Regions from separate parts of the Homo sapiens genome. Here region 1 is linked to region 2. The links come from fine-mapping of genetic effects on gene expression. A gene starts in region 2. The other region holds a variant in brackets. All regions are shown on one strand. Distances are from middle to middle.

Region 1 (15,888 bases), 40 kb after region 2:
AGCAGTTTGACTTCTTGAAGGACCTGGTGGCATCTGTTCCCGACATGCAGGGGGACGGGGAAGACAACCACATGGATGGGGACAAGGGCGCCCGCAGGTGGGGCCAGGGCCTGGCATACAGTGGGGAAGGCCAAGGCCACAGGGCTTGGGGGTGGCCAAGGAGTAGGGAGCACTCCGGGCAGATGGACTGTACCTTCCCAAAGGGGCCGGAAGCCAGGCAGCGGCGGCCGGAAGAACGGTGGGATGGGAACGAAAAGCAAGGACAAGAAGCTGTCCGGGACAGACTCGGAGCAGGAGGTGAGTGAGGCCCCAGCCCTTCGCCCTGCCCTTGGTGATGGGACAGGCAGCCTCGCCCCAGGCTGAACTGGCAGGAGGCCAGCTCTCATCCTTTTCTGCAACCTGTTTGCTCACTGGTTTATTTGTAAATTGGGGCTATGAGGGTCTACTGCTGTCCCTGCCACTCCCAGTGATGGGTTCGTGTCTTTTCTTGTCAACTCTGACCTCTGCGGTGCTCACAGGATGAATCTGAGGACACAGATACTGATGGGGAAGAGGAGACATCACAACCCCCACCCCAGGCCAGCCACCCCTCTGCCCACTTTCAGAGGTGAGCAGCCCAGAGGCATGGGAGGGTGCTGGCAGACTCCCCAGAGCCAACTTACCCCTCTTGTTCTCCCTGGCCCCTTGGTCTTGTTGATTGTGGCAGATTTGTGGGGTGGAAGGAGAATAACTGAGGAGGGCTTGAAGGCAGGAGACTGTTCTCCCGAAAGATCCTGCTCCACCCTGCCAGGGCCCGTGGGTGGGGCCTGGGCCTGCCCTGCGTGAGCTGCCCTGGGCCTTGGCCGCATGGATCTGGAGGGTGGTGGTGGGAGGGTCAGATGGGGGAGGGAGGGTCTTGGCAGCTGCCCCTGTGGAGGGCACGGTGGGGCTCAGGCCTGACTCTCTCCTGCCTTCTGCCCTGCAGCCCCCCGACACCCTTCCTGCCCTTCGCCTCTACTCTGCCTTTGCCCCCAGCGCCCCCGGGCCCCTCAGCACCTGATGAAGAGGACGAAGAAGATTACGACTCCTAGCGCCTTCTGCCCCCCAGACCATAGCCCCTTTTAGTTGGTTTTAGTTGCTCTGGGGGGAGGAGAGAAGGTAGAGCTGTTCTTAAATTTATTAAAAAAAAAAATAAAAGGGAATCTCAGTGTCTGTTCCAGGCTCTGCGCAGGACGTCATGGTTGCCATCCCATCCACCCACCTGCCTTCCCCACATGAAACTGGGAGCTGGGGCCGGGTGCGGTGGCTCACGCCTGTAATCCCAACACTTTGGGAGGCTGAGGCGGGCAGATCACCTGAGGTCAAGAGTTCAAGACCAGCCTGGCCAACATGGTGAAACCCCGTCTCTACTAAAAATACAAAAATTAGCTGGGTGTGGTGGTGCATGCCTGTAATCCCAGCTACTAGGGAGGCTGAGGCAGGAGAATCGCTTGAACCTGGGAGGTGGAGGTGGCAGTGAGCTGAGATCACGCCACTGCACTCCAACCTGGGCAGCAGAGTGAGACTCCATGTCAAAAAAAAAAAAAAAAGAAACTGGGAGCTGGGGCCGCGTCAGTGGCAGGTGAGGTGGCAGCGAGGGGAGAGAGGGGTCATCCGGGGAGGCTGGAGGCCCTGGGTCTGCTGAGTGCACCACAGCTGCGGACAGAAGGGAGTTGGGAGAGCTTGCAAGTGCTGGGCATGCGGGGGACACTTGCCACGTGGTGCTGCTGACCCCCGGTGGGCTGCTGACCCCCGGCGGGCTGCTGCCCTGCTCTGAGCAGCCCCTTGTCTCTCTGATGGAGACTGTTCTGCCCCCTGTAGTCTGCTGTGAAGGGATAAGTGGGACAGGGAACAGGTACAGGTCTTGGAAACTGTAGAGTCCTGTGTCCAGTGTAGTGAAGGGCAGGTGGAAAGGAGCAAACATAGAGAGATGGTGGAGGGTCTTGAAGGTGGTTTTTGAGCAGGGCAGTGACACAGTCTGTTCATCCAGATAACCTTTCAGAGCAGACCCAGGAGCTGTGCTGCCTGTAAAGCAGAGGTACTCGGTGAGGCTGGGGAGGGCGCAGGTGGCCCACATGGGGCCTCCTGGAGCCCGCAAGGCATTCAGTTTTAAAGGTCTGCTGGCATGGTGGCATATGCCTATGGTTCCAGCTGCTTGGGAGGCTGGGACAGGAGTTCCAGGCAGCAGTGAGCCATGATTGCACCACTGCACTCCAGCCTGGGCAACAGGAGCAAAACTCCATCTCAAAGAAAAAGAGTCTGACATCCCCAAGTACTGCAGAGGAAGAGGCTACACGGCACTCATACACAGCTGGTGGAAATGTCAGTAAGTACAACCACTTCGGAAAACCGTTCAGCAGTTTCTTATTAACACACACACTTCCCCTATGACCCAGCAATTCCACTCCTAGGTAGCTACCAAGAGAGATGGTGGCATAGGGCCACTGGAAGACATGTACAAGCCTGTAGCCCCAAACTGGAAACAGCTCAAATGCCCATCAGCAAGAGCAGGAATAAGTAAATGGTGGAATGTTGTATGATAGAACAGCAGTAAAAGGAACCACTGTCAATGCAACTCCCTGGGTAGATCTTGTAGACCTTACGTGGAGCAAAAGAAGCCAAACAAAAAAGTACATGGGCCAGGTGCAGTGGCTCACACTTGTAGTCCCAGCACTTTGGGAAGCCAAGGTGGGCAGATCGCTTGAGCTCAGGAGTTCAAGACCAGCTTAGGTAACATAGTGAGACCCTGTCTCTACAGAAAAATACAGACATTAGCTGGGCATAGTGGGGCCCGCCTATAATCCCAGCTACTCAGGAGGCTGAGGTGGGAGGATGGCTTTAACCCAGGAGGTAGAGGCTGCAGTGAGCTGAGATTGCTCCACTGCACTCCAGCCTGGGCGACAGAGTGAGACCCTGCCTCAAAAATTAATTAGTAAAAATGAAAAAGAGTACACCCTGATGTAATTCATTTAAGCCAAGCTCAGGAACAGGAAAAACTAATCAACAGTGATGGAAGTCAGTACATCCATAAGGGGTGGGGATTGGCTGGGGGTCGGGTACAGGGAGCCTTCTGGAAGTGTTCTTCAACTTGACCTGGGTTATGTATAAAACGATTAAGCTGTACACTGAAGATTGGTGCACTTCTTTGATACCTTCCTAAAAGTTTTACTTAATCTTTATCTATCTATTGAGACCCTATTGCACACCAGACACTGTTCTAGGTAGTAGCGATCAAGTGAACAAAATGTTCTTGGAGTTTATTTCTGAAGTGGTGAGACAGACAATAAAGATGTATCATGCCAGTCATGGTGGCTCACACCTGTAATCCCAGCACTTTGGGAGGGTGAGACGGGTGGATCGCCTGAGGTCAAGAGTTCGAGACCAGCCTGACCAACATGGTGAAACCTCGTCTGTACTAAAAATACAAAAAATTAGCCGGGTGTGGTGGCAGACGCCTGTAATCCCAGCTACACGGGAGGCTGAGGCAGGAGAATCGCTTGGACCCGGGAGGCGGAGGTTGCAGTGAGCCAAGATTGTGCCATTGCACTCCAGCCTGGGCAACAAAAGCGAAACTTCGTCTCAAAAAATAAAAGATGAATCGCATGTCGGATGGTGATCCATGCTGTGGGGAAAATAAATAAAGCAAAACAGGCGATCCAGGGTGATAAGGGAGGCCTGCATCCTTTTTTTTTTTTTTTTTAGAGACGGAGTCTCGCTGTGTCTCCCAGGCTGGAGTGCAGTGGCACGATCTCAGCTCACTGCAATCTCCACTTCCTGGGTTCAAGCGATTCTCCTGCCTCAGCCTCCCGAGTAGCTGGGATTACAGGTGCCTGCCACCACGCCCAGCTAATTTTTTGTATTTTTAGTAGAGACGAGGTTTCACCATATTGGCCAGGCTGGTCTCAAACTCCTGACTTTGTGATGTGCCTGCCTCGGCCTCCCAAAGTGCTGGGATTACAGGCATGAGCCACAACACCCAGCTTTGGGGGGCCAGCATTCTTAACTGAGTTCAGGCAAGACTCTGGTGACAGTGAGCATGGAGTGGGCGGGCTCACAGCCTTCCGTGGGGAGAGGGCTCCAGGGAGAGGGAACAGCAAGGGCAAAGTCTGGGAGAATTGGATTTAATCTGTCAGTTTCCCTGTGGTCTCCTCTGCTCCCACTGCGTCAGCCACCACCCAGGGCCTGACTCAGGGGCCACCAGCTCTGGACTCAGCCCACCTTAGCTGGGAGGTGTCCTTGTGGCACTGACAGCCCCTTGGGCCTGAGAAGCTTGGTGCAAAGGGAGAAGGAAGAAGCATGGGGCACCTACCACACCCCTGCCCTGGGTGCTGCTGGACCTGGGGCCCCAGAGGCTGGGGAAGGAGGCAGAAGGGGAAGGAGAGTTGAATGACTGAGTGAACCTGCTCGTCCTCTCCCAGCCTCATCCCTGGCCTGGTCAGGGAGCTGACGTGCTATGGGATCTCTTGATTTCCCCTTTCCCTCTCTGGGCTTTGCCCTCCACAGCCATGAAATAGGTCTGCGGATGCCTCCCCCGTGGTTGATGGGAGGCAGGAGGCGTTGCAGCAGCACGTTGCTCTGTGCTTGTCAGGTGTGAGGCCACCATCAGTTTCCCTGCACCCCCGAGCCCTCCTCTAGGAGAGATGTCCTCATACCCCCACCTTATGGATGAGGAGACTGAGGCTCTAGAAGTGACATAGTGGCCCAGAGGTAGGCAGGGGTTTGGTCTAGGCATGTATGTCGTCCAGGACTTGGAGAGGTGGAGTTAACAGCTTAACCCCCAATACACACCCGAGGGCCATCCCTTTCTCTGGAGCAGGGACACTTGGCTCCAGGACATAGACACGACCAAATTCCCACTCAATTAGGCTATGGGCCCTGAGGCAGGGGACTGGCACCCGTGCTCTGGACAATCTACCAGGGGCCTGGTCCCTCCCCTCTTTGGTGCAGGGCCTTTGATGAGAGTGGGTCTGGACTTTCTCGGGGGGCTCCTTGTATCCGGAGAGTGACAGGGCTATGTGACTGCCACCTCCCATCATCAGAGTGAACTATTTCTATTCTGAAATCCCATTTTTCCTATTGTGTGTTCAAATGTCGTTTTAAAAAATGGAATAAGGACTAAGATTTTTGCCAGTAATCAGAGAGCTGCAAAGAAAAACAGGATCCCACACAATGCCCATCAGATAAAACTGAAAACCGGATAAAACCTGTTGCTAGTGAGGATGCCAGTGAATGGAATTCTGGCATTTGGTAGGCATGTAAGTTAGTGGGGATGTTTGAAAGGGCATTTTGGCAGTTGTGTGTCCCCTGGCAGGTCCACTCCTGGGTTAAACCTCTCACAAGCAGAGAGATGTGTCCTAGGCATGGTTTGAGGTGGCAGAAAAATCAGTGTCCATCAATGGAGAACTGCCTGGGCAGAAGGCAACAGGGATAGAGCTTAAATGCAGAGTGCTGAGTGACAAATAGTCAAATAGAGAACAAGAAACAAAAAACGCAGACATACATGAGAATCCTTTATACGGCATTTCTGCCACTTACTCTGTTACCTTGGACAAGTGACTTTAAGCTGTCTCTACCTCTGTTTTCTTTTTTCTTTTTCTTTTCATTTTTTTGAGACAATCTCTCTCTCTGTCGCCCAGGCTGGAGTGCAGTGGAGCAGTCTTGGCTCACTGCAACCTCCACCTCCCAGGTTCAAGCGATTCTCCTGCCTCAACCTCCTGAGTAGCTGGGACTACAGGTGCGTGCCGCCATGCCCGGCTAATTTTTGTGTTTTTAGTAGAGACAGGGTTTAGCCATGTTGGCCAGGCTGGTCTCAAATTCCTGATCTCAAGTGATCCGTCAGCCTCGGCCTCCCAAAGTGCTGGGATTACAGGCATGAGCCACCGTGCCTGGCCTGTTTTCTTTTATAAATAAATAAAAGAAAGGCAAGGGAATGGTACTTGTGATCCAGACCCTCCACCACGGGTCTGGTCCCTCCCCTTTTTGGTACAGGGCCTTTGATTAGGGTGGGTCTGGACTTAAACACAGGTGTGTGTGTGGAACAGGGCATGGAGAGGTGAAGTTAACAACCTATCCCGCCACACCTGAGGCCATTCCTTCCAAGTTACAGGGATGCTCGGCTCCAGAACATGGACGAGACCGTATAGATACAAATATATATGTATATGTCTCTATATACACAAATATATGTATTTTTATATGTATATGTGTGTGCCTATATATGTGTGTATATATATGTGTGTGTGTGTATGTGTGTGTATATATATGTACACACATATATATATGTATATATATATTTTTTGAGACATGGGATCTCACTTTGTTGCCCAGGCTGGTCTCAAACTCCTGACCTCAAGTGATCCACCCTCCTCAGCTTCCCAAAGTGCTGGGATTACAGGCATGAGCCACCCCACCTGGCCTCTACCTCTGTTTTCTTTTCTTTTTTTGAGGCGGAGTTTCTCTCTTGTCACCCAGGCTGGAGAGCAGTGGTGCTATCTCGGCTCACCACAACCTCCGCCTCTCAGGTTCAAGCGATTCTCCTGCTTCAGCCTCCCGAGTAGCTGGGATTACAGGCATACGCCACCACACCCGGCTAATTTTGTATTGTTTTTAGTAGAGACAGGGTTTCTTCATGTTGGTCAGGCTGGTTTCAAACTCCTGACTTCAGGTGATCCGCCCGCCTCGGCCCCCCAAAGTGCTGGGATTACAGGCGTGAGCCACCTTGCCCAGCCTATCTCTATTTTCTAATCTGTAAAACGGGGATCATAATAGCACCTCCTTCAGGGACATGTGATGGTTTCATGAGATATGA[T/TA]ATGTAAGTCGCTCAGCACAGTGCCTGGCATACAGTAAGCACCCAATAAATGGTGCCTGCTGTTATGGACATTTATGGAAATAAGATCCTGGAAAGCAGATTGGAAGGGCATGTACTAAACAGACAAGGGGATGTCGTGGCTCAAAGCAGCAGGAGTAGGACTGGGATGCAGGGAAGGGGAGAGTCCATTGAAAGGGGAAGCTTTAGGCTGGGTGTGGTGGCTCAAGCCTGTAATCCCAGCACTTTGGGCAGCCAAGGTGGGCGGATCACCTGAGGTTGGGAGTTCCAGACCAGCCTGACCATCATGGAGACACCCCATCTCTACTAAAAATACAAAATTAGCCGGACATGGTGGCGCATGCCTGTAATCCCAGCTACTCGGGAGGCTGAGGCAGGAGAATTGCTTGAACCCGGGAGGCGGAGGTTGCGGTGAGCCAAGATCGTGCCATGGGACTCCAACCTGGGCAACAGGAACGAAACTCCATCTCAAACAAACAAACAAACAAACAAAAAAGAAAAGAAAAGGGAAGCTTTTCAGGGCCCTATGGCTGCATGGAGTGCCCCAAACTAAGGCGCATGTCTGCTTGATTCTATGCACCCTGTGTTGAAAAAACAGAAAAGACATTGTCAGAATGGGCCCAACCTCAGGGGACAGCATCACATAGGGCAGGGTAAAGCATGGCCCTGCAGGATTCATGGGATCATACATTGTCTTCATTCAGTCACTCAAGAAATATTTGCTGAGTACCTACTCTGTGCCGGGCCCTGCTCTGGGCTTGGGGAAGGTGAACTCAGAGAAAACACACAGAGCCTCTGCTCCCTAGCTCAGTCCAGTTGGGGGAAGGGGCAGCAGACTGATGGTAAACAAATAGGTACATTCACGCCTCTCCAGGGGTAGTGGGGAGAGGGGACCCCGAGGAGGCCAGCGTGTTGAAGCCGCAGCAAGCAAGTGGGTGGGCAGGGCCCTGGTTCCTCCAGGGGGGTGCGGCTGCCCTGTTTTTAGCCACAGATGCTCTTCCATTCCAGCCTGGTGCCCAGAGTCGGTTTCACTTTCCTCTTACCCGTTTTCTTAGAGTTTGGTTTCTGTTTTGTGGGTTCCCTGCCCCCCTTCCGCCTTTGTCTGGAGTTGCAGATTAGCCTAGTGGTTCTCAACCCTGGCTACATCTTAGAACCCTGGGGAGCTTTTTTTTCTTTTTTTCTTTTTTTTTTTTTTGAGACAGGGTCTCATTCTGTCTCCCAGACTGGAGTGAAGTGGCGCGATCTTGGCTCACTGCAACCTCTGCCTCCCAGGTTCAAGTGATTCTCCTTTCTGCCTCAGTCTCCCCAGTAGCTGGGGAGGCTACTCGCCACCACGCCTGGCAATTTTTTGTATTTTTAGTAGAGACAAGTTCTCACCATGTTGACCAGGCTGGTCTCAAACTCCTGACCTTAAGTGATCCACCCGCCTCGGCCTCCCAAAGTGCTGGGATTACAGGCCTGAGCCACTGTGCCCGGCCGACCCTGGGGAACTTTAAAATACCCATATCTGGGCCTGTCTTCAGTTAGATCAGAAGCCCTGAAGATGAGCCTTCCCAAACTCTGGTCTCGTCTTCTTAACTCGGTGAGAACAACGGTTGCCCTCCCAGTGCAGTGGTAGGAAAATCACCTATGCAATGTCAGGGCTCCTCCCCTTTATCTTCCGTTTTTCAGGGATCACAGCCCTGAGCTGCCCTTTGTCTAATATCTGAAAACACTTGTTTCCTGTGCTTTGTCCAGTTTCTTAGCTGTTTGTAGAAAAAGGGCAATTTCAGTTCACCTTACTTCCTCAAGGCCAGAACCTAGAGTCCCTCCTCATCCTTTGAACTCCCCAAGTCCTTCACCTGTCCCCTCTCCAAGTTTCTTCCCATGCTCTGGCTGGGATAACTGTGCTTGCAGGTTTCACCTCCACTTCTGGAAAGCGCCCCTCTTGGGGACACAGGGCCTGTCGGATTCACGTCTGTGTCTCCAGGATGTCTCACAGGGCCTGGCACGTGGTAGGTACGTGGTGGGCATGTTTTTGTGCATGGGTCTGCCCTGCCCTTCTTCCTTCAGGCCACCCCAAATCATATCCGTATCCCTAGAGAACTGACGCCCACCCCACTCCAACCAGGTGGCACCTCCAGGACCGCTGGTCAAGATACCCTCCCCACAGCCATTGGTCAGGGGTGGCCGTGAGACTCAAGACAGCACATGTGGCCGGGTGCAATCGCTCACGCCTGTAATCCCAGGACTTTGGAACGCTGAGGCAGGCAGATCACCTGGGATCAGGAGTTCAAGACAAGCCTGGCCAACATGGCAAAACCCCATCTCTACTAAAAATACAAAAATTAGCTGGATGTGGTGGTGGGTGCCTGTAATCCCAGCTACTCAGGAGGCTGAGGCTGCAGAATTGCGAGAACCTGGGCAGTGGAGGTTGTAGTGAGCCGAGATCGCACCACTGCACTCCAGCCTGGGCGATAGAGCAAGACTCCGTTTTTTAAATAAATTACCCAGTTCCAGGTTTTCTGTTATAAGCAACAGAGAATGGGTGAAGACATTTATTTTTATCTTTAATAATGTATTTAGGCCAATTGTATGCTAGAGAGACCTGACTACTACAAGACATCATTGTATGCTTGCCGAATAAATGAAATACCATTGATTAATTTGCAAACCACATTCCCAGTGCACCTGAGGTGGCTTCCAACAAGAACAAGGAAGGTAAAATTTAAAAAACAGAAATGGAGATTCAAGAATGTGGATGGGTGCAGTGGTATACACCCGTGCTACCAGTGGTGCACTCCCAGCTACTCTGGAGGCCCGAGGAGGGAGGATCACTTGAGACCAGGAATGTGAGTCCAGACTGGGCAACATAGCAAGATCTTATCTCTAAAAACAAAAAATTTTAGGCCGGGTGTGGTGGCTCATGCCTGTAATCCCAGCACTTTGGGAGGCTGAGGAGGGCGGATCACGAGGTCAAGAGATCGAGACCATCCTGACCAACATGGTGAAACCCTGTCTCTACTAAAAATACAAAAATTAGCTGGGTGTGGTGGTGCACGCCTGCAGCCCCAGGTACTCGGGAGGCTGAGGCAGCAGAATCTCTTGAACTCGGGAGATGGAGGTTGTAGTGAGCCAAGATCGTGCCACTGCACTCCAGCCTGGTGACAAAGCGAAACTCTATCTGAAAAAAAAAAAAAAAAAAAAAATTTAGGCCACATGGGATGGCTCACACCATAATCCCAGCACTTTGGGAGGCCAAGGCAGGAGGATCACTTGAGGCCAGGAGTTTGATACCAGCCTAGGCAACATAGTGAGACCCTGTCTCTAAAAAAATTATTAAAAAATTTTTTAAATAAAATAATAAAATATAATTAAAAGAGAAAATAAAGATCAGAAACAATAGCATACATATATAAATATGCAACCCATAAAGGCCTGTAAAAGTGCTTTATTAATTCAATATCAAATTTAGTTCTGAGCTTTCTGGCAGCCAAAGCAAAAAACTTTTTTTTTTTTTTCCGGAGAAAACTTCTTCAGTGGAAAGAAATTTTTTCCTAGACTTTAGCTGCAAAAGAACAGTTTCAGATGGGGCCTGCGGTGTGATGTGGTGAAGGCCAATCTCAGCCGCATTCGCACAGCCAAAGCCTGTAATAAGCCTCCCACAATGAGTCCTTGGAGAATGGGTCCAGGCGATTCAGTTGTTCTCATTTGGGCTCGCCTTGACCTCTCAGTGGCTCTTGTCATAGTTGGTCGCTTGCCTCCTCTTTGAAACACTTTCTTCACTTGGATGGGGGCCCTCACTCTCTTGGCAATCTTTTTTTTTTTTTGAGACGGAGTCTCGCACTCTCACCCAGGCTGGAGTGCAGTGGCGCCATCTCGGCTCACTACAAGCTCCGCCTCCCGGGTCCACACCATTCTCCTGCCTCAGCCTCCCGAGTAGCTGGGACTACAGGCGCCCGCCACCACGCATGGCTAATTTTTTTTATTTTTACTAGAGACGGGGTTTCACCGTATGAGCCAGGATGGTCTCGATCTTCTGACCTTGTGATCCGCCGCCTCATCCTCCTAAAGTGCTGGGATTACAGGCGTGAGCCACCGCGCCCGGCCTCTCTTGGCAATCTTCTTCCCCACCGTGGGCTGTGGTCTTGTCTCCATGGCCACATCTCCCTGACCTCTCTTGACCTCTGAATGGTGGTGGGCCCAGGCTCAGACCTCTCCCCTGCCCTCCCTTCCCCTCCCTTCCCCTCCCCTCCCACTTCCTGGATGACAGGCCACTGTTTCCACCCCAGGCCCTCCAGTCTAATTTCTACTCACAGCCAGAGGGAGTGCAGCCATTACATCTTATGCTGCCATTTCCTCATCGTCCTGTGATCACCTAAAGTTACTAAACAAATCTCTATTAAAGTGCCCAGTTTTGTGTAGTGGCCAAATCCCAGAACTTGATTTAGAATGAAGTATTCTTGGGCTGGGCGTGGTAGTACGCACCTGTAGTCCCAGCTGGTCGTGAGGCTGAGGCTGCAGGGATCGCTTGAGTTTGAGGCTGCAGGGACCCAAGATAGCACCACTGCACTCAAGCCTGGGCAACAGAGCGAGAGCTTGTCTCAAAACAAACAAACAAACAAACAAACAAACAAAAAAAACGAACACAGCTTTTTCCACTTCTGGCCATTGCAGCCCCCACTGATAAGGAGTCAGGGAAGTCGGGTCTGCGCCTCTCCCTGGCCCCATTCCCAGGCTTGAGAAGACGCTGCCTTTGGAGAACAGGGAGGGAGGGCAGTGGGTGCAGAGAGTGCATCCTGGATTGACACTGGTGTAAGATGGCATCTCACTCCTTGGGTGGCAGCTGTCTAAAGCTGGCTCCTGCCCTCAGGGGTTTTATGGGCTCCCTTATGTACTACCCCCTTGACTGAAACTCCTGGCAAAGGGGCAGCCCCTCTCTGTTGACTGGCTCTGGTTTTCTTTCAAGTGGCATGCACTACCCCACTCTGTTGCATACCCTGTGCCAGAGAAAACAAGCCCGTGGGGCCAGACCCCTTTTTCCATTCCTGCGGTCCAGTGCCCACTGCAGGTCACCTCCTTTCTGGAGGCCTTTCCTACCAATGACCCACGGGGGTGCCATGACTGCAGGAAGCCCACCTCAAGCGCTCTGGGGGGCTTCCTTGAAGCACTTCTCACCAGATTTGAGGTTAGAAGGCAGCTCCCCAGCTCCACCCCCTGCAGACTCACTGCCATAGCAGCTCTTTCCAAATCAAATCACCGCAAACTGCCCCTTTCAAATCCACCCTCGATCCCTTTATACTCTTGCGGTGGATGAGGGGCTTCGACAGTGGCAACATGGGTTTCTGCTTTCTTTAAAATTTTGCAGTTTGGCCAGGAGCAAGCACTTCACTTTGGCATTTCATATCCATTCCATTCTAGAGCCTCAGTCAAATATTCTTGCACGCTGTTCATCCTTAGGACAAACCCAGAATCCTTTCCCTGGCTCCCAGGCCCCACGTGATCTGACTCTTGAGCACCCCCCCATGGAGGTTTATTTATTTATTTTTTTGAGGCGGAGTCTCACTCTGTCGCCCAGGCTGGAATACAATGACGCGATCTCAGCTTGCTGCAACCTCTGCCTCCCGGGTTCAAGTGATTCTTGAGCCTCAGCCTTCCGAGTAGCTGGGACTACAGGTGTGTGCCACCATACTTGGCTAATTGTTTTGTATTTTTTTAGTAGAGACGGGGTTTCACCATGTTGGCCAGGCTGATCTCAAACCTCTGACCTCAAGCGATCTGCCCAACTCGGCATCCTAAAGTGCTAGGATTACAGGTGTGAGCCACCGTGCCCAGCCCCCCATGGAGGTTTAAAATATCAAAATACCAACCTGGGCACAGTGGCACACACCTGTAGTCCCAGCTACTCAATAGGATCGTTCTAGCCCAGGAATTTGAGTCCAGTCTGAGCAACATAGCAAAACCCCATTTCCAAATAACATAAAATATCAAAATACCAAAAAACATTACAAATAATTGTATGTTGGTAAATATAGAAACTTAAGCAAAGTAAATACCTTTCTGGAAGAATGTGAAATGTCAAAATTGGCACAAAAATATCAAAACTTCAGTAGACCCATAACCAGGAAAGAAAATTGAGTAGCTCATGCCTGTGACCTCAGCACTTTGTTTTATTTTGTTTTTGAGATGGAGTCTCACTCTTATTGCCCAGGCTGGAGTGTGGTGGCGCAATCTCGGCTCACTGCAACCCCTGCCTCCCATTTTCAAGCGATTCTCCTGCCTCAGCCTTCCGAGTAGCTGGGATTAAAGGCGCCAGCCACCACGCCCAGCTAATTTTTTTGTATTTTTAGTAGAGACAGAGTTTCACCACGTTGGCCAGGCTGGTCTCGAACTCCTGACCTCAGGTGATCCACCTGGCTAAGCCTTCCGAAGTGCTGGGATTACAGGTGTGAGCCACTGCACCCGTCCTAACCTCAGCACTTTGGGAGGCTAAGGCAGAAGGATCATTTGAGGCGAGGAATATAAAATCAGCCTGGGAAACATAGCGAGACCCTGTCTCTTGGGAAAACAACAACAACAACAACACTACAATAGGCCGGGCACAGTGGCTCACGCCTATAATCTTAGTACTTTGGGAGGCTAAGGCAGGCAGATCACCTGAGGTTGGGAGTTCGAGACCAGCCTGGCCAACATGGTGAAACTCTGTCTCTACTAAAAATACAAAAATTACCCGGATGTGGTGGCACATGCCTGTAATCCCAGCTACTTGGGAGGCTGAGGCACGAGAATCACTTGAACCTGGGAGGTGGAGGTTGCAGTGAGCCGAGATCACTCTACTGCACTCCAGCCTGGGCGACAGAGCAAGACTCCATCTCAAAAAAAAAAAAAAAAAAAAAACTAAAAGAAAAAGAAACTTGTAATCTGAGACTCCAATGTGAAAAAACCCAATAGAAATGTTTTTATAGGGCAGTTCTACCAGCCTTTGGAGGAACAGATGGTCCTTATCTCACACCAGTTGTTACAGAAGCCAGAAAGAGAGAAGGCTGCCCAATTTCTTGTATGACCCCCGCAAGCCAGATAAAGACAGTATCAGAAAAGTCTGTACACAGAGCATTTCGTTATGGACACAGATGTTAAGCGTAAACTAATAGAATAGAATATAGGAAAATACCCCACCTAGGGATAGGAAAAGAAAGACTCTCAAAATACAAAGCTCTATTCAAAAACATTTATGAGTCTAACTCCATCAAAATTAAAGATTTTTTTTTTACCAGACTTAAAAAAAGATTAAGGATTTCTGGCCAGGCACGGTGGCTCACACCTGTAATCCCAGCACTTTGGGAGGCCAAGGTGGGTGAATCACTTGAGGTCAGGAGTTCGAGGGCAGCCTGGCCAACATGGTGAAACCCCATCTTTACAAAAATTAGCCAGTCGTGGTGGCACATACCTGTAATCCCAGCTACTCGGGAGGCTGAGGCAGGATAATTGTTTTGAACGTGGGTGGTGGAGGTTGCAGTGAGCTGAGATTGCACAACTGCACTCCAGTCTGGGTAACAGAGCGAGAGAGCGAGAATCCGTCTCGAAAAAAAAAAAAAAGTACCAGACCTCATTTTATGACCCCAGGGTTAGTCAAAATTCATAAGGTGAATAATGTCAATGTTTGGTGAGAATGTGGGCAGACAGAAATCCTTGGTCTTCTGTAGGCACATAAACTGACAGCCCTTCTCTCAAGCAATCTGAAATTAGGTGTATGTTTATGCCAAGACCTTACACTCTCAGCCTTGGATAAGTAGGCCAGAGAGATTCTCATTCAGGTGTACAAAGAGGCATGTGCAGCGGTGTTGACCACGGTGTTCTTTGTGAGAACAGGACTTGGGAGCCAGTCTGGCATCCATTGTCAGAAGGATGAATTAAGTAAAGCATACAAAGGGAAACTACGGAACACTATGCAACAGTCAGGATCTACAAGGCTTTTAAAACACAGTGCGGGCCAGGCACAGTGGCTCACGCCTGTATTCCCAGCACTTTGGGAGGCCGAGACGGGCGGATCACCTGAGGTCAGCAGTTCAAGACCAGCCTGGCCAACATGGTGAAACCTGGTCTCTACTAAAAAATAAATACAAAAATTAGCTGGGTATGGTAACGCAAGTCTGTAATCCCAGCTACTTGGGAGGCTGAGGCAGGAGAATTGCTTGAGCCCGGGAGGTGGAGGTTGCAGCGAGCTAAGATTGCACCACTGCACTCCAGCCTGGGCAACAAAGCGAGACTCTGTCTCAAAAAAAAAAAAAATCAAAAAACAAAAAACAAAAACAAAAACCACAGTGTTAGCAGCGGAGGGTGGCATGTGCCCATAATCCCAGATACTTGGGATGCTGAGGCGGGAGGATCTCTTGACCCCAGGAGTTTGAGGCCAGCCTGGGCAATATGAGACCTTGTCTCTAAAAACAAAACGATGGGGCATGGTGATTCATGCCTATAATTCCAGCTTTTTTTTTTTTTTTTTGAGAAGGAGTCTCGCTCTGTTGCCCAGGCTGGAGTGCAGTGGCATGATCTTGGCTCACTACAAGCTCTGCCTCCCGGGTTCACGCCATTCTCTGGCCTGAGCCTCCCGAGTAGCTGGGACTACAGGCGCCCGCCACCATGCCCGGCTAATTTTTTGTATTTTTAGTAGAGACGGGGTTTCACCATGTTAGCTAAGATGGTCTCAATCTCCTGACCTCGTGATCCTCCCTCTTCGGCCTCCCAAAGTGCTGGGATTACAGGCGTGAGCCACCGCGCCCAGCCTAATTCCAGCTTTTATTTATTTATTTATTTATTTCTGAGATGGAGTCTTGTTCTGTCACCCAGGCTGGAGTGCAGTAGTGTGATCTCAGCTAGCTGCAACCTCTGCCTGGGTTCAAGTGATTCTCCTGCTTCAGCCTCCTGAGTTAGCTGGGACTACAGGTGTGTGCCACCATGCCCGACTAATTTTTGTATTTTTAGTAGAGACGGGATTTCACAGTGATGGCCAGGCTTGTCTTGAACTCCTGACCTCAAGTAATCCACCTGCCTCGGCCTCCCAAAGT
Region 2 (8,695 bases):
TATGAAGCCCCGAGTCTCCTGCCCTCCCTGAACCCACCTGGCCCCCTCAGCTCTGTCCTGTTAGGCCAACTGCCTCCTTGCCAGCCCCACCCCCAGGTTTTTGCCCATCCTCCCAATCTCAATACAGCCTGAATAAACCAAGACAAGACCTCTGGCTTGTGAGCAGACTCTTCTGGTGGATGGGCTGAGCACAGACACCATTCCCTGAGATATGTCTCAGTTCCCAAGGAGCCACTGTACACATCCATCCTTGTACACGGACACCAGGTGCTCAGAGACAGACACAGGCACATCTGCACGCCCCCCACTTGCTCCCCGGAGCGAGGACCAGTCTCCAAACTCAGAGCAACTTTATTGTCAGCGTGGGCGGAGCGTTGGGAGGCACCTCAGTCATGATACAGGCGCAGGAGGCAGCCGCGGAGGGTGCCCATGTAGCGGTCCCAGAGGGCCTGGTGTCTGTAAGAACATGAACAGTGACAGCTGAGTTTTCACAACACTCACCGTGATGGAGGCCCTGCCCTGCGTGCTTTCTACACCTTCATTCATTTTGCCCTTAGAAAATCCTTACAATTCTTCTCATGATGAACCCTAGTTTGTACATGAGGAAACTGAGGCATGGAGAGGTTAAGAAACCTGCCCCAAATCACACAGCTTCTAAGAGGGAGAGCCAGAGCTTTGGTCCAGAGACTTTGGTCCCACCCCCAGGGTAGCAGAATGGGGAACCTTGAGTCTGCAGGAGGCGAGGTCCTGGCAGGTGGCAGGCTGGGGCAAAGCCAAGCTGGACAGGAGGACAGGGCTGCTCACCGGAAGCCATCGAGGGAGTGGACAGACGCTGAATACTGATTCAGGAAGAACCGCACGTCGCTGAGTGGCCAGTGGTCGGAGCGGCAGGGTTCCACAAACTGCGGGCCCAAGAGAATACTTAGCACTTGTATAGGCCAGGGACAGACCAGGTTGGGTGTCAGAGAGCACGACAGCTCACCTTCTCCACGAGGTCCACAAACAGGTCTCTGACATCTTTATTGTGGGTCAGCTTGGCGGCCACGTTCACCAGCCCCCGGGACAGGTTCTGTGGGGCAGGGATCCTTGGAGCTCTGCTTTCTGCCCCAGAAGTTGGCAGCTGAGCACAGAAGCTGGGGGAGGAGGAGCAGGCCCCTCCCCAGATCCATCCACCTCCCTCCATCAACCAAGTCCCCATTGTTTATGAGCTGCTCCCGTCAGCGGCCACCAGAGGGAGCAGCAGTGCCACCTGCCGGCCAATCCCTGGCAGGGGCAGAGCTGCCCGGTAGGGGTGGCGAACTGGAGGCTGAAGATGCCAAGGGTCAGAGGCTGGATGGGACCACAGACCTTGAAGTTGGCTTCCATCTCAGAGAAGACGCCCAGCTTTCCCCGGAGAGCAGTGCACACCAGGCTGCAGAGAGACAGGGTCACGCCTATAGCCACCTGGGCCCCTACTGCAGGCCCCGCCCCATGGGCCCCTACAAGGTCACCTCTTGTGCAGGTCCAGAAGGTCCTTGTCAGCCACTAGCACCTTGAGCTCCTTCAAGTCCTGGAGAAATTCCTTGTCTAAGTCCATGTCCATGTCATCCATCTGTGAGTCTGTGAGGCCATGAAGGGGGTGGGGGTGGGTGATAAAAACCCCTCCTGTGATAGCCTAAGCCTTTCCTCACCCACCACCTTATTTCCCCCCTGGGGACAAAAGAGGAAATGGAGTGTCAGAGAGATGGAGTGACATGCCCCAGGCCACAGAGAGGCAATGGGCCCTTTGTCTGCAGACAAGGTGTGTGTGGGGAAAACATTCTATGGGCAGGGGGAGCCTGGGTGGGGGCCATGAACAGGAGCGGATGCCAGGAACTGAGGGCCTGTGGGAGAAACTACTGGTGGGGAATCAGGTCCTGAGGATGGGGAGGCGTCCAGGCACCTGGGTCAGTGGGGGCCTCACCGACGGCTCCAAGGGTCCAGTTTTGGATCATGAGCTCAGCGCAGAAGGCAAAGTCACCGAAGCTCAGATACTGCAGTTTTTTCTTCCCTGTCTCAAAGCGGTTGTTAGCAAAGAAGACGATGGCTGCATAGTCCCTGCACAGACGAGAGGAGGGTCCTCTTAGGGCTTGAAATTCCTTCTTAGGAAGCAGCTCCCACCTGCAACCTCAGCTGGGTGTCCGAGTTCTGGCCTCTCTCTGCCTCAAGTCACTGTGTGACGTGTCTCAAGTCACTTCTCTATGACCCTTCCCCATCTGTGCGAAGAGAAGGTTCCAGCTCAAGTTTACTAGTGGATACAGTGGGAGACCATAAGGGTAACAGTTACTATCTACTGAGCACTTCCTAAGTGCCAGGGCTGTGCCATGGGCTTTACATATGGTACCTCTCAACAGCCCAGCTGGAAATCGCTGGACTGTGCTTTGAATCCAGGTCAGTCTGGTCCAAAGTACAGACCAAGCTGGGTGCGGTGGCTCAAGCCTGTAATCCCAGCTACTCGGGAGGCTGAGGCAGAATTGCTTGAACCAGGAGGCAGAGGTTGCAGTGAGCCAAGATTGCACCATTGCATTCCAGCCTGGGCAACAAGAGTGAAACTCCGTCTCATTAAAAAAAAAAAAAAAAAAAAAGTACAGACCAAAAGTGGGATAATCATTCCCCCAGCATACTCAGGAGGTCAGAAGGTTTGGGGTAGGGAAGGTGGACGAGCCTCCGGGCCCAGGAAGTAGTGTGCGGGATGGGGAGGTGGCTAGCTCCTCACCTGGCCAACCGGTCAGAGAGGAGGAAGTGTTGCTGAATATTGTCCACCAGGGAGCCCCGCATTTCCTCTACCACCTTGAAGACCCGTTTAAAGTTGTCAAACTGCAGGGCAGTTAGGGTAGAAGAGAGGACTGGTCAGAGTGTACACTGTGTCGCTCACCCAATAAACCACTTATTGAACATCTCTCCCTTCCCCATCCACCTATCCAGTCAGCAGATGCTGATTTAGCATTTGTTATTCCTTCAACCAACTATTAGTTATTAGTACTTGTTATCAAATCAAATGCTTAGCAACTCCTGCTGTATCTTGCCTTGGATAAATGTTTACTCAATCTTATCTCTAAATCCAACCCCATTTTAGCACCATGCTCTCCAGATCTTCACAAGTTTGAGTTGGAAGAGACTTTCCTGGCTAAGCCCTAGAAACTAAAAAATAAAAAACAAATGCTAAGCTATAAACAGAAAGCTCACAGGAGATACAAAAGAAAGGCATCAAAGACCCAGAAGGGTTACTTCTTCCTGGCGTACCAAAAAGGCTTGTGGAGAAGGTGGCATCTCACCTCTTGTCTTGGATTTCAAGGGGTAGATATTGCCAAGAACAGTACCCTCCAGGTAGAAGCAACATGAGTAAAGGAAAGCCTGGGGCTGGAGAAATGTAAGCCTAGAGAGGTCTGCAGGGATGAGATAACAGGACAGTCCATAGGTCAAAGCCAAGGAGTGCAGCTGCTACCCAGGAGGCAGTGGGAGCCAATGAAAGTTTATCAGGGGTCTGATAAAATTTCAGGTCATTCTGAAAGGTCACTCTGGCCATACAGTACAGGATAGCTTGGAAGGCACAACAGGGAGCCAGGCACGGTGGCTCACGCCTGTAATGTCAGCACTTTGGGAGGCCGAGGCGGATGATCACTTGAGGCCAGGAGTTCAAGACAAGCCTGGCCAACATGGTGAAACCCTGTCTCTACTAACAATACAAAAATTAGCTGGGTGTGGGAGCGGGCGCCTGTAATCTCAGCTACTGCAGAGGCTGAGGCACAAGAATTACCTGAACCCAGGAGGCGGAGGTTGCAGTGAGCTGAGGTCGCGCCACTGCACTCCAGCTTGGGCCACAGAGCAAGACTCCATCTCGAAAAAAAAAAAAAAAAAGGAGGGGAAAGGGGAAGGGAGGAGAAGACTAGGTATGAAGCTGCTGCCACAATCAGAGGCTGGAACTGGGCCAGTGGCCAAAGGGAGGGAGTGAAGTGTAGATGGGATGCTGTGTCCGTGTGGATGCAGTGCATACCTGTCTCCGGCAGCTCTTGAGGGTGATGCCTGTTTTGGTGCTGATGTCATCCAGGTCTTTCTTGGTGCCTTTGGACAGCTTCTTGCCCAGCACCTCCCGAACAAAGGCCTCATCAAAGGCATAGTACCTTGTGGAGTCAGAGAACACCATTGACCCTCCATAAAAGACAGGAAAGGGAGTCTGGCGGGGCCTAGCAGGGCCTAGGTCTGACCCCTTCCACTCTCAACTTTCTGATGGCTGGGTAAATCCCATCCCTCCCTGGGCCTGTTTCAGCCGGCAAAATGGGTATACAGTCAGACTGGTTGATGTCTCCACCATCCCAGAGGGTGAGCACCTCTCGATGAGTAGTGCCTGCCGGGAGGGCGGAATCTGGAAGATGAGCTGGTGCAGTAGCTTGGGCGGCGCATGCAGCAGCCGCTCGAGCATGTGGAAGGTGCGGTAATGGTCCATGGTGTCGCTCTGCAGCACCGCTGCCGTGGCGCCAGTCTGCTCCAGGATTCCCGAGCGCACCCGCAGGGCCACCGCGTCGGTCACTGGAAAGCGGACGCTAGCATCAGGCCCCGCCCCGCCGACGCCAGAGGCCCTTAAGGGTTTCCATCCCAGACCCCTATAACACCTCTTATTCCCAGGCGCTCGCCCACTTCCCTAAAGGATGCCCAAGTCTTAGCCCCGCCCCCTCTCCCATTCAACACAACCGCTCCGCCGACTGGCTTCCCCACACGCCCCTCACGGACCCGAGTAACCATCGAGCCAGAGGCGATACACGTCCTCGTCGATAAGGGTCGTGTTCCCCACGAAGATGTCCAGCTCACTGGTCATGGCGACGCCCGGGGCCGCAGCGCCCCGAGCAGGAGCGAGCACTGCTCGGGACTGGCGCGCCGCCTTCAGGCCACTTCCGGGAGCGCCGAGATTCCGCTCGCGGCATCGGGACCCAGCTTATGACCACTTCCGGGACACAGCCAGTCGGGGAGGGGACGGGGCGGGAGCGGCGAGGGAAGAGAGGGGGAGGCCTGCGCGGAGGAGCACCGCTTCCTCCCGCCGGGAGGGGGAGTCCCGGGCTCCTGCGTCCTGTCTCCCTCCCCGGCCGTCTGCAGGAGCACGAAGGGAGTGCCTCCTCTTCGTCTCCTCGGTCCCCGTAACTTCTCCCCTCACTTCCTCCTGGCTTTTCTCCCACCTTCTCTGCCCTCTTCGGGACCTCCTAAGTTTGACCTGTATCCTAAACTTAGGGGTTTCACAGGGCTCTATCCTAAATCTCCGCAAAAATGGGGTATGACCCGACTTCCTCGGGCTCTTGCTGGAGACTGGTTTGTCCATCCTGCGCATGAGCACCTCTCCTGGGTTTGGGGCACCTGCTCCCACCTTGGTTTTAATCCCACCCCCAGCCCCACGAGCTACTGACGTCTCTAATTCTGCCCCTCCGAGCTCTGCCTGGAAGTCCACATCCGGAGGGGCCGCCTATCGGCCAAGTCTATCCACACTCTTCCCGTAAGCCCCTCAAAAGCTCAACATATTCTAGACAGACCTCTGCCTCTCCCCATTTGTTTCTTTCCTGCGTCCCTATCTCAGTGACAGCCCTAACATCCACCAGTTCTCATACGAGAAACCTGGGCGTTCTTCCAGACTCCTCTCTCCCCACATTCAGTTCGGCTGATTTGCCTCCCGAATATTTCTAGTATCTGTTTGTCCTCTCCACCCCCACTGATGCTGCCCCAGCCGTCTTTCTGCTTAGCTCTCCTTGCTCTTGCTCTTTGACACCGTTACTAATCTCCCTGTTTATGTCCCCTCCCCGCAGGGTCCGGCCCACACAGATCAGCCCAATCTTTTTAAATACATTTTTTTTTTCGAGACAGCGTCTCGCTCTGTCGCCCAGGCTGGAGTGCAGTGGCGCGATCTCGGCTCACTGCAACCTCCGCCTCCCGGGTTCAAGCAGTTCTCTGCCTCAGCCTCCCGAGTAGCTGAGATTACAGGCTCCTCCCACCACGCCCGGCTAATTTTTGTATTTTTAGTAGAAACGGGGTTTCACCATCTTGGCCAGTTAAAGGCATATTTTAAAATGTTACTCCCTTGCTTAACATCCTTACAAATGTTACTCTCTTGCTTAACATCCTTAGTGGCCTTTGGAAATGCTCCAACCTGGTACTGGAAGTTCTTAAGAATCTGGCTTTTACCTACCTTTGAAGCCTCGCTCTCTCTCTCTTAGCATTTTCTCGACACATCTGCTTTTCAAAAACCAAGCTATCCTCATTGTTCCTAAAGCAGCTAGGCTCTTTCGGGCACCAGTGTCTTTCACTATGTTATTCTCTCTCCCTGAAATAGCTCTTTACTTGGCAAAGTCCTATGGATCTACCAGAGCCTCTTGGATAGCATCTCTTTTGGGAACCCTCTTAAGGACCCTCAGACCATACTCCTCCCGGATTTATTTCTTGCTTAACACAGCTTGACTTCCCGGACAGACTGCGACCTCCTTGAGGATGGAATCGGTATTTTGGTTAAATTTATTTCTGCATGGGCCTTGCACATAAAAAACGTTTATTGAACAAACGAATCCTGTATGTTCCTCCCCCCAGGCAGGAAACGCTCCCTGGGAGGGAGGGTAGTCTATTGGTGAGCTAGGACGTTTGGACTCAGGGTTCCGAGGAACCAGGAGCGATCCTTAGTGGGCCGAGACTTCCGAATTTGATCAAAGGTAAAGAGGGACTGGAGAGCGGTCCATCTGACTTCTGTGGGGGATGGGCAGGAGTCAGGGGCGGACGCCTGAATCTTGTTTCTCAGAAGAGCCGAGAGGCCTAGGCTCAAGCTTGGGGCGATCCGGTACTTGGAGGTTCGAAGCTCCTAGTTTCGGGTTGAGACCGATGTGGAGGGCGATGACGCGCGGGTTCCTTGACATCGAGGATCAGTAACACCCGGAGTGGGTGGGGAACGAGGGGGGCGGCCCCTGAGCTCAGGCCCCGCCCCTTTCCGGGGACGTTTCACCGGATTGGCTGTCCTTCCATAACGACATGCGGCCCCGCCCCGGCGCGCGCCCCGCCGCGTGCCCAGCCCGGGTAGCTGCTGCAGCCTACGCTGCCTCGGCCACTGCCTGCCGCGTGCGGAGCCGGAGCCCGAGCCTGAGTGGCGCCGGGCCCGACGTGGGGCTCCTGGGCCGCGGCGGCGGGCGGGCGATGCTCCAGAGGCCTGACCAGCCATGGAGGCCGAGGCAGGCGGCCTGGAGGAGCTGACGGACGAGGAGATGGCGGCGCTAGGCAAGGAAGAGCTAGTGCGGCGCCTGCGGCGGGAGGAGGCGGCGCGCCTGGCGGCACTGGTGCAGCGCGGCCGCCTCATGCAGGAGGTGAATCGGCAGCTGCAGGGCCACCTGGGCGAGATCCGCGAGCTCAAGCAGCTCAACCGGCGTCTGCAGGCAGAGAACCGTGAGCTGCGCGACCTCTGCTGCTTCCTGGACTCGGAGCGCCAGCGCGGGCGGCGCGCCGCACGCCAGTGGCAGCTCTTCGGGACCCAAGCATCCCGGGCCGTGCGCGAGGACCTGGGCGGCTGTTGGCAGAAGCTGGCCGAGCTGGAGGGCCGCCAGGAGGAGCTGCTGCGGGAGAACCTAGCGCTTAAGGAGCTCTGCCTGGCGCTGGGCGAAGAATGGGGCCCCCGCGGCGGCCCCAGCGGCGCCGGGGGATCAGGAGCCGGGCCAGCACCCGAGCTTGCCTTGCCCCCGTGCGGGCCCCGCGACCTAGGCGATGGAAGCTCCAGCACTGGCAGCGTGGGCAGTCCGGATCAGTTGCCCCTGGCCTGTTCCCCCGATGATTGAAGGCACTGCTTCCTCCACGCCGACGCCCGCCCGGATTGCTCCCCGAGCCCCGGGACCGCTGTGGACCTCGGGACCTGGACGCCGTCCTGGCTGCGCAGGAGGGGCCGCTGGCATGGACTAAGAAATCCTGACACCAAGAAGGGCCCCTCGCTCTTGCTGGCAGGGCAGCAGGGGGACTGAAGGCTGGAGCGGAGGGACTTGCTGGGGGTTGGATTGGGGGTAATAAACCCGGACGGAAGCGGAGCCCACGGCCTGGGCAGCGTCTGTTTGGTACTCGCCGGGGTTGGGGCGAGGGTGGGGTGCTGATACAGGGTACAATTCCCATCCAGAAGGACTGCAGAACTAATGATTCCCCCATTACTTCGAGCCTGGGGTGGGATGCGGGGCAGTGGTAAACCAGACTTCCCCCATCGGGCGCCGGGACCGGCCTTAATCCAGCCCCTGAAGTGGCTCCAGCTCCCTTCCCGGCTCCTTCCTGTCCAAGACAATGGGGCAGGAAGCAGGTGCTGGGGGCCTAGAACCACTCGGCCGCCTCCTCTGAGGCTGGAAGGGGGCATAACAGCGCCCCTCCGTGGCACACGCAGCAGCACTGTGGGCCCCCACGGGGAGAGGGGCGGTAAGCCTCTTCGCTTTTACCCCAGAGGACTGTCTCCCCTCAGTCCCGGAGATGAGGCCGAGCGGATGTAGCCCCACTTGTCAGATAAGACAAAGTCCAAAAATATCAAAGAATTTGTCCAAGGTCATGCAGTGAGTCTGTAGAGCTAAGGCTGGGACCTAGGGCTCCAAATACTCTCCCATTGGCCTCTGGGTCCAGTGAGGCACTCAGGCCACAGCTTCAAGCCTTTTATTCCATTTTGGTAGGTTTGTATAAAAATACTCTCTTTAGGAAA

The links.
Region 1: its variant is fine-mapped to the expression of FIBP in whole blood (INTERVAL, PIP 0.92).

Annotation. Positions count from the first base shown.
Region 1 is chr11:65,920,366-65,936,253 of GRCh38, forward strand. DRAP1 (DR1 associated protein 1) reads left to right here. Exons shown (of 7, transcript NM_006442.4): 4 at 1-97; 5 at 204-297; 6 at 519-607; 7 at 965-1,198. The coding sequence ends at 1,070. Among named protein-coding and RNA genes, the nearest start is that of DRAP1, 8.9 kb to the left of the region's middle. RefSeq lists a cis regulatory region at 7,507-8,072 and enhancers at 7,609-8,038, 7,753-8,047. The variant T/TA (reference allele first, on the strand shown) is at 6,827.
Region 2 is chr11:65,883,588-65,892,282 of GRCh38, forward strand. FIBP (FGF1 intracellular binding protein) reads right to left here and starts at 4,884. Exons shown (of 10, transcript NM_004214.5): 1 at 4,747-4,884; 2 at 4,347-4,545; 3 at 4,013-4,139; 4 at 2,735-2,835; 5 at 1,943-2,076; 6 at 1,491-1,599; 7 at 1,348-1,411; 8 at 983-1,069; 9 at 805-902; 10 at 153-456. The coding sequence starts at 4,831. The coding sequence ends at 387. It overlaps CTSW (cathepsin W), which reads left to right. Exons shown (of 10, transcript NM_001335.4): 10 at 1-154. The coding sequence ends at 31. It overlaps CCDC85B (coiled-coil domain containing 85B), which reads left to right and starts at 7,086. Exons shown (of 1, transcript NM_006848.3): 1 at 7,086-8,048. The coding sequence starts at 7,197. The coding sequence ends at 7,805. It overlaps FOSL1 (FOS like 1, AP-1 transcription factor subunit), which reads right to left. Exons shown (of 4, transcript NM_005438.5): 4 at 8,462-8,695. RefSeq lists enhancers at 1,500-1,559, 4,785-4,854, 8,497-8,546, 8,587-8,695 and silencers at 4,975-5,114, 6,877-7,356.